Homo sapiens: one gene and its partner. The protein of the gene in region 2 purifies or fractionates together with the protein of the main gene of each other region. This does not show direct contact. Each region holds a gene or a part of one and is shown on either strand. Other genes may lie near its edges.

Evidence for each region. Proteins that work in one complex are often made in the same cells at the same time.
Region 1: the proteins of SLC31A1 (region 2) and CERK purify together in Homo sapiens (affinity purification with mass spectrometry; 2 studies listed by BioGRID and IntAct, with this or other methods). This does not show direct contact.

Annotation. Positions count from the first base shown.
Region 1 is NC_000022.11:46,689,201-46,694,457, reverse strand, and holds part of CERK (ceramide kinase), read left to right. Parts: intron 1-954; coding exon 955-1,031; intron 1,032-2,680; coding exon 2,681-2,886; intron 2,887-4,257; coding exon 4,258-4,466; intron 4,467-5,257. UniProt on the Homo sapiens protein: Catalyzes specifically the phosphorylation of ceramide to form ceramide 1-phosphate.
Region 2 is NC_000009.12:113,261,145-113,265,626, reverse strand, and holds the end of SLC31A1 (high affinity copper uptake protein 1), read right to left. Parts: 3' UTR 1,135-4,482; downstream 1-1,134.

The sequences.
Region 1 (5,257 bases), on a different chromosome or scaffold from region 2:
CAGTTTGGCCACTGCAGGCTCTGCAATGGTGGCTACGCCACTGAACAAGCAGGGACTCCTTTCACCTGGCATATCTCCGCCCCCACCCCCACACAGTGTATTCAGTAATATGCGACCAGTGTAAATAGAACCTTAAATAAATCTAAACATAGTTGTCCCAGGCCGCATGACCTCCCTAGTGACCATGGAGGGCGCCTGAATGGTCATCCTGTCTCTGCTCTGCCTGGGGCTGAGGACACGGGGCTGTGGAGACAGCTGCGCCTTTGTGAAGGACACTCACGTCCTTTCCTTTTAAGTCATGCAGACTTCAGAACCTCCTTCTAGCTCCTTTCCTTTTTTAAGTGAAGAATTGGAGACCATAAAATCAGAATATGTAGAGGCAGATGCTGTTTGCGTCAGTGCATTAAAGAACTCGGCTGCTGATGAGCGATTTCCATCAGTGCAAACAGTGTCCTGTTTGACAGCGTGAATCCGGCAGCCCCCAAGATCAGAAGGACGTGCTAGACGAATGACTAAGTTCTAAGCTGATGGTTCTGAGTTATTTGCTTGTTATTGACTGTAACAGATAAACCCTGTATGATTTGTTTTCTGAAAGTAAATGAGTCCTCACCCCAGGAGTCCGCTGGGGGAACCAGTGCCTCAGTCATTTCTCCCAGCCAGGCTATGTTAGCTGGAGGGCCAGGCAGAAACCGTCTCCAGGTGGCACCTCAGCGTCCTCATGCTGTGCTTCTCCTCATGTCCAAACCTTTTAGAGAAGGACATGTTGAATGTGTCATTGTAAAAGTAGGTCTCATTCTGAAACCTCTAATTAATATGCCAAAAAATATTTTGTTAAGCCTTTGAAATGGAATTTTTTCGTATGTGAAAAGAATGTAAATACATCTATATGTGCCAAGCATACGCACTGCACCTGCAGCTCCATATTTAAAAGGTGATGATATTCTTGTCTTTCAGATGCTTTGTTTGCAGGCAAAGCAAGCAGCAGCTGGAGGAGGAGCAGAAGAAAGCACTGTATGGTTTGGAAGCTGCGGGTAATTCCTAAAACACAGGCTCAGTGTTGTCACTGTGTGTGCTGGAGTGCGGGTTTCTGTCCTCTCTCAGGGCACTGCCTCTTCTCCCTGCCCACCTGTGCTTTTCCTTTTTCCTGTCTGGCACCAGGCATCCATTTCTTCTTAGCCCCAGGCAGCGTCAGGTCACTGTTACTTGCCGTGTGTGGCTGTGTGGAGCAGTGGGTTTTGTGAAAGGCCCCGTTACCCTTTCTGAAACGCTGTTGTGGTGCTGAGTCTGGACTCCTGTCCCAGGTGCTCTAGAATGTGGGGGCAGCAGATGTCCCATTGAGGGCTTGCTTGGTGACCACCTCAGGCCCTGGCAACCACACAGTCTCTGTCCAGCAGAGGCAGCCTAGGCAGTGTACAGTGAGTGGGTATGGCCATCTGCCGATGAAACTTTATTTATGGACACTGAAATTTAAGTTTCATAGAATTTCCACATGTCACAAAATATTATTATTTTGATTTTTTTCTCTTTCTCTTCTTTTTTTTTTTTTTTTTTTTGGATGGAGTTTCACTCTTGTCGCCCAGGCTAGAGTGCAGGGGCACAATATCAGCTCACTGCAACCTCCGCCTCCCGAGTTCAAGCGATTCTCCTCCCTCAGCCTCCCTAGTAGCTGGGACTACAGGCATGTGCCACCATGCCCAGCTAATCTTTGTATTTTTAGTAAAGATGGGGTTTCACCATGTTGGCCAGGCTGGTCTCAAACTCCTGACCTCAGGTGATCTGACTGCCTCAGCCTCCTAAAGTGCTGGGACCACAGGTCTGAGCCACCATGCCCAGTCAATAATATTTATTTATTTATTGGGACAGAGTCTTGTTCCATCACCCAGGCTGGATTGCAGTGGCGCGATCTCGGCTCACTGCAACCTCCACCTTCTGGGTTCAAGCGATTCTCCTTCCTTAGCCTCCTGAGTAGCTGGGATTACAGGCGCCTGCCGCCATACCTGGCTAATTTTTTTTTTTTTTTTTTTTTTTTTTAAGACAGAGTTTTACTCTTGTTGCCCAGTCTGGAGTGCAATGGCGCAATCTCAGCTCACTGCAACCTCTGCCTTCCGGGTTCAAGCAGTTCTCCTGCCTCAGCTTCCCCAGCAGCTGGGATTACAGGCATGCACCGCCACGCCTGGCTAATTTTTGTATTTTTAGTAGAGATGGTTTTCACCATGTTGGCCAGGCTGGTCTCGAACTCCTGACCTCAGGTGATCTGCCCGCCTCGGCCTCCCAAAGTGCTGGGATTACAGGCGTGAGCCACCGCGCCAGACCTTTTTCAAGGATTTAAAAACGTGAAAAGCATTCTTAGCTCTCAGGCCACACACAGACGGGCGGCGGGCCGGATCTGACACACAGCCTTGGTTTGCTGACCCTTGTTCTAAATTGTCCAAAAGTCACCAAGTGAGGAGAGGGACAACAGTCCTGCCTTCTGGGAGGTGATCCTTTGGGTACCACTTCCTGCGGGGAGCGGACAGTTCCGTGGTGGATGTTTTTGGTGTTGAGCTGAAGAGTCGATTGCATGAAGTGTCTGCTAAATGCATGAGCAGGTGAGAGCCCGAATGGCCTCCCACCGTCCTGGTGCAGGGCGCTGCCCGGCGCCATTGTAACTGTGACATCTCCGTGGTTCTTTGTGCTTCAGAGGACGTGGAGGAGTGGCAAGTCGTCTGTGGGAAGTTTCTGGCCATCAATGCCACAAACATGTCCTGTGCTTGTCGCCGGAGCCCCAGGGGCCTCTCCCCGGCTGCCCACTTGGGAGACGGGTCTTCTGACCTCATCCTCATCCGGAAATGCTCCAGGTTCAATTTTCTGAGATTTCTCATCAGGCACACCAACCAGCAGGACCAGGTAAGTGGGGTGCTCTTGCATGGAGCCTCCACTGGCGAGTAATTTATGTTCCAGCAGTCCCTGGTTTATGTGTTGTAGGAATTCATTATTTAATTCAAGGGAAGGAAGGGCAAACTTTTTTTTTTTTAATTTCACAAACTTTAAACTCCTGGTTACAACTACTCCTTGTAAAATATCATTTAAAACGATAAATTTTTGAGGCCAGATGCGGTGGCTCATGCCTGTAATCCCAGCACTTTGGGAGGCTGAGGCAGGCGGATCACCCGAGGTCAGGAGTTTGAGACCAGCCTGGGCAACATGGTGAAACCTCATCTCTACTAAAAATACAAAAAAGCCAGGCGTGGTGGCGTGCGCCTGTAATCCCAGCTACTCGGGAGGCTGAAGCATGAGAATCGCTTGAACCCAGGAGGTGGAGGCTACAGTGAGCTGAGATCACGCAACTGCACTCCAGCCTGGGTGACAGAGTGAGACTCCATCTCAAATATATGTGTGTGTGTGTGTGTGTGTGTGTGTGTATGTATGTATACATGTGTGTGTATGTGTATATATACATATATGTGTATATACATACACATACATACATATACACACATACATACATATACACACACATACATACATACATATACACACACATGTATTTGAGCACAGAAACTAAGAGGTATGAATCTTTATAATACAACTTCTTACCCGTTGTTTCTCTTCCTATTTAAAAACAGAACAAAGCGACACAGTAAAGATGTAAGTGGCCCTTGCAGGCCACTGAAAATAGACTCTTTAGGCTCCCAGAAATGGGTTCTGTTCGGACCCTTCTACCACATCTTTCTGTAGCCTATGCAGAGGAAGACCCGAGTCTAGTCATGTTGGGGGAAGCGGAACTTTTGGTCACAGTCTCCAAATTTAGTCACATTTCTTTTTTTACTTAAGTTCTATTTAAGATCTAGTCTAATGCTATTTTTATGTGGCTTTTTAAGTAGTGCTTGTTAAAAAGAGAATACAAAATTCTAATAATCACTGCTAATTATTTATCAGAATTCTGTAAAAAGCGTTCGTCATTGTAGATAAGCTGTGGTTTCTAAAAGCATTAGAAGTCATTTTGACAAGTGCCGCGGAAGGTGGGCACCGGGGAAGGTAGGCGCCGGGGAAGGTGGGCGCCGGGAAAGGTGGGTGCCAGGTTTCCCTTCATCTCTGAGCTGTCAGTTCAGCTGGAAAGGGAACTCCAGGGGCCTGCACAAGCAGTCGCATCCTCCGAGAAGGGCCGTGTGTGCACCCAGGCCTGACAGCGCTCGCTGTCAGGCCTGGGGTGTTCTGCTGCCCCACCCAGACGATGACGTTTAGAGCTGAATGGTCCCTCTCACTGTTTCTTGGTAGTTTGACTTCACTTTTGTTGAAGTTTATCGCGTCAAGAAATTCCAGTTTACGTCGAAGCACATGGAGGATGAGGACAGCGACCTCAAGGAGGGGGGGAAGAAGCGCTTTGGGCACATTTGCAGCAGCCACCCCTCCTGCTGCTGCACCGTCTCCAACAGCTCCTGGAACTGCGACGGGGAGGTCCTGCACAGCCCTGCCATCGAGGTCAGGTGCGTGCAGGGGTCCTCCAGCCACCAGCGCCATCCCCTTGAGCCCTGAGGTGTCTGTCACAAGCTGCCCCACCCAGGGTGGGGGGTTCCCTGGGGCTTTATAAACACAAAACGTAAGAATGTTTTATAAATGCACTTTTCTCTCCCTATGTCAAATATCGAATGAGATGCCGTTACCCACATTCTGGAAAGATGCCAGGGTGCCGAGTCCTCAGCATTTTGTTTTGCAGATAATTTTCATGGGTGTTTGAAGCTCCTCCATTTCATTCTTTTCCTCTTCCACACCCTGTGCTCCAGGCTGGCATTGGGCTCTTTGCCCTGGCATTCTCTCTCTCTTCTCCTAAATAATTCAAAAGGTGGGAGGCTGAGGCGGGCAGATCACTTGAGATCAGGAGTTCAAGACCAGCCTCGCCAACATGGTGAAACCCCGTCTCTACTAAAAATACAAAAAAAATTAGTCGGGTGTGATGGTGCATGCCTGTAATCCCAGCTACCCCGGAGGCTGAGGCAGGAGAGTCGCTTGAACCCAGGAGGCAGAAGTTGCAGTGAGCCGAGACCATGCCACTGCACTCCAGCCTTGGTGACAGAGCGAGACTCCATCTCAAAAAAATTTCAAAAGGCAAACAAAGGAAACCGCCTTTACAGGCAGTCCTTTGTCCACTGAATCCACCAGGGAACCGCTGGCCTCAAGGGCCACAGTCAATCACCAAGTGCAGGTGCTCCGTGCAGGGAGGGGCAGGAGGCAGCAGGGCTGGGAAGGGCACCCCGAGGATGGGAAGGAGAGGAGGAGC
Region 2 (4,482 bases):
GACGGGCGGATCACCTGAGCTCAGGAGTTCAAGACTAGCCTGGCCAACATGGCAAAAACTCATCTCTACTAAAAATACAAAAATTAGCCAGACATGATGGTGTGTGCCTGTAGCCCCAGCTACTTGGGAGGCTGAGGCAGGAGAATCACTTGAACCCAGGAGATGGAGGTGGCAGTGAGCCGAGACTGTACCACTGCACTCCAGCCTAGGTGACGGAGTGAGACTCCATCTCTAAATAAGAAAACTAAGGCTTAGGGATCATTAGACTAACTTCCTAAGGTCATACTGCTAGTAGGTGATGGAACCAGAATCCAAACTCATTGACTCCTCTAAGTCCATGTTCATGACACTACACTCGGAAGAGACTAGGAATGGTGGTGATGGCAAGATGCCCACTGGGGGCCAGTGGGAAGAGCAAGTAACGTCAGCATTTTGGCATTACCAAAGGGACTGGCAGGGTCACTGTGCATCTCAAGGTTGGGCGGTGAACTTCTTATAGGCCCAGCTCAGAGCCTCTTGCCTAACAGCAGACACAGGGAAGGGATTATGATGTGACAAAAGTTGGCTTTTAAACTGAGGAATCCTCAGTATACTGAAATACTTGTGGCTTCATGAAGACCCTGTCTCCTGTGCAGAAGGTCACATGGATCTTCTGGCATGTACTAGGCATGTCATTTTAAGTCGAGTAGGGGGAGAGTGAGATGAAAACCTAAAAGGATCATACCACCTAAAATACGGACATCTTTTTTTTTTTTTTTTTTTGAGACGGAGTCTCGCTGTGTTGCCCAGGTGCAATCTTGGCTCACTGCAACCTCTGACTTCCGGGTTCACACCATTCTCCTGCCTCAGCCTCCCAAGTAGCTGGGACTACAGGCGCCCACCACCAGGCCTGGCTAATTTTTTAATATTTTTTTTAGTAGAGACGGGTTTCACCGTGTTAGCCAGGATGGTCTCGATCTCCTGACCTCATGATCCACCTGCCTCAGCCTCCCAAAGTGCTGGGATTACCAGGCGTGAGCCACCGCGCCCGGCCACAATATGGACATCTTAAAAACTGATGGTAATGGCCAGACTCTATGCAGACTATGAAAAGACTAGCTTATTGCATTATCACTCTGGGCAGAAAGACTTGCATAGAATCACAAAATCAAAATATTTATTTTGTTCTTTTTCATATGACACTGTTAAAACATTCCTACTACAGCAATACTGCTCTCCAGGAGCTTACAATCTAAAACAGTCAACATTAATTGTAGACCCAGTAATTAAGGCATTATATCAAATGCAGACTTTGTATCTTTTTTTTTTTTTTGAGACGGAGTTTTGCTCTTGTCGCCCAGGCTGGAGTGCAATGGCGCCATCTTGGCTCACTGCAACCTCCGCCTCCTGGGTTCAAGCGATTCTCCTGCCTCAGCCTCCCGAGTAGCTGGGATTACAGGCATGCACCACCACGCCCAGCTAATTTTTGTATTTTTAGTAGAGATGGGGTTTCACCACATTGGCCAGGCTGGTCTCAAACTCCTGACCTCAGGTGATCTGCACCCCCGCTTGGCCTCCCAAAGTGTGTGAGCCACTGTGCCCAGCCCAGAGTTTCTATCTTTTGATGTATCTTTTGAAGGAGCAGCTGGAGAGGGCAGGATCAAAATTAAATCACATGAAAGTGTACTCCCCTCCGCCTGCTCCTTATAAGGAACCCCTTATGACTAGAACCCAAGACCAGTACCCACAGCCTGAAAGGGAATTTCAGACAACCCTACCATAGAAGTAGTGAAGAAACCTTAATTTCTAATCTCCTAGTGGATACAGTGAGGATTCCATTTGTGGGCAATGGGGATGCTGGGAGTTCCTCCCTCACAGACTAGAGACGGCACCTAAGATTCTGTAACTCTGGGAAGGGTACCAGCCTTATAGAAATTCCAGTGGGTCAACTGCCTCTTGAAGCATGCTTAAAGTCTCTTAACAGGTTTATAAATGCCAATTTCTGGTTGGTATTATATCCACAGCATAGCACTGTCTACTGCATCAGGAGGGCTATGGAGACTTAATATACTAGACATGCGATTAAAAAAACTGAAAGAAAAGGGAAAGGACAACAGAGTAAGGGGGCCAAAGAAATGGTGATGCAGTCTTCTAATAGATGTGAATGGGGAAGGAAGAAAAGAGAAGTTTAGATCCAAAATGAACAAAGAAGTCAAGCATTAAATTCCAAATGAACAGGTATACAGAAATGAAAAGTTAATGAAATCATTGTATTATCACAATCCAAGAGCTCAAGATGGAATTTAAGCTTTTTCTCCTTCACTAGCTTCATCCTTTGGCAGCCAGTCTAAGAATCTCTGAAATTCAGGTTTTTCAGGAGATTATCTCTATCCTGAATACCTGAAGACCTAATCTAAACTGTTATTTCTTTCTGTGAATTTCAAAGTCATAGCATTTTGTCTTAACTGGCCTTGAATTTTCTTTTTTTCTGAGACAGGGTCTTGCTTTGTCACCCGGGCTGAGTGCAGTGGCGCAATCATGGCTTACTGCAGCCTCGACCTCCAGGGCTAAAGCAATCCTCCTGCCTCAGCCTCCCAAATAGCCAGGACTATAGGTATGCACCACCATGCCTGGCTAATTTTTGATTTTTTATAGAGATAGGATCTCACTATGTTGTCCAGGCTGGTCTCGAACTTCTGGACACAAGCCATCCTCCCACCTTGGCCTCCCAAAGTGTTGGGATTACAGGCATGAGCCATTGGGTCTAGCTGGCCTTACTGATTAGGTTTTGTTGCTGGGAGGGTATTCTATAGCAGCTCATGCTGAGATTTCTAGAGAGCACCAATGTCACTACTAACTATTGATTCCTATTTATTTCTCATGGTTTTATGACTCCTTGGCTTTAGACAACAGGCTGTATTATACCTTTGTGTTGGACTTCGTCAGTACCTGTCATTCACCCTGCTCATGTTAAGTATCATCATTACAAAGTGATGGAATGAGAGAAAAGCACAAAGCTCTAAATGTTGGTTCTTGGATTTTAACCTCAATCCAGTAGGCTCATAACCCTCTCTTGGTTCAAAGCCATACAAGTCCACATTCCTTGCTCTCCAATATTTAACTGGCACCCACAGAGAAAGTACAAACTTCAAAACCACAACACAGGCCAACAGGATAGCTGTGTTTTGTTTCCTCTGCCCTGAGGCACAACTGGATCTAGCACCAAGGAGGGCAGGATTTAACAGACCAGCACAAGACAAATCAATTTAAAGAGGTAGTTTGAACCAGGAATAAGACTGCAGTGTAGACTACAACTGAACAGAATACAAATCCAATGTGGTTCTTCACTGAGAACAGGGGTTTTGGCCACTTGTAATGTAATTAAACCCCCACGAATAACAAAGATGATTATATGGAGGATGAGGATCTGCTTGGTATAAGCACAGTTGTTGGAGCCTGAGGAAAACCTGGCCATCAACAAACCACAGCCTGAGTCTTTCCAAAGAGAAAGCTGGGCTTTTGCCCTTCTGGCCCATGACTGGTAGATTTACACTGCAGATCAAAGGTCTCTCTCAACAATCAAACTACTTCCAAGAAACCATAGACCTTTAAAAATAAGGACTAGTGATTTCATACAGGCTAGTAAAAATACTTTGGCTATAGCCCTTCACACATGTGTGCTTGGGTACACATACACACAGGTGGAGCTCAATAAATGTGGAATGATTAGGTATTGATCAGCAGTATTTACTACGTGAGTTAAGTCCAGACACACCATCTACCAATCAGCAATTCAAATTTCCATGCCCAATACCAGGCAGCCAACCCACCAGGCAATATTTCCTTAGCTTAAAGCACAGATTCTCAAAAGTGTGGTCCCTTGTAACATCAGCAGGAACTCAGAAGTGCCACTTTGGGGGCTTTTGGGTTGAGGCCCAGCAATTAGTGTTTTAACAAGCCCTACAGGTGATTCTGATGCACGCTAAAGCTTGAAAATCACAGTTTTAGAGGCAGACATGCGAAAACATTATAATGGAAAAATTAATTCAAACTCTCTTGCTTCACTTCAGCTGGGACAAACCAAGGTATCAAGACAAAGTAAACTGTGAATGGTTTTATTTAAAAATATCTATTTCTATTTTCTCAAATTGATTGTCATTTTTTGATTGGCAAGTTCATGCTAATCAAAGTGTTAAGTGGGAATGCAAGTCGATGCATCAGCCATCCAAGAATACACACTCTGCAAGTTCTAAGCCTGTATTTAGTCTCAAACCACCGCTCTGCACACTACAAAGATTTTGGTATAACGTATCACATCTAGAGAAAGGCACAATGTATTTCCCACTCATTGAATCCAAAAGCTGGACCTTCTTTTCTTTTTTTTTGAGATGGAGTTTCACTCTTGTCACCCAGGCTGGAGTGCAATGGCGCCATCTTGGCTCACTGCAACCTCCGCCTCCTAGGTTCAAGTGATTCTCCTGCCTCAGCCTTCTGAGTAGCTGG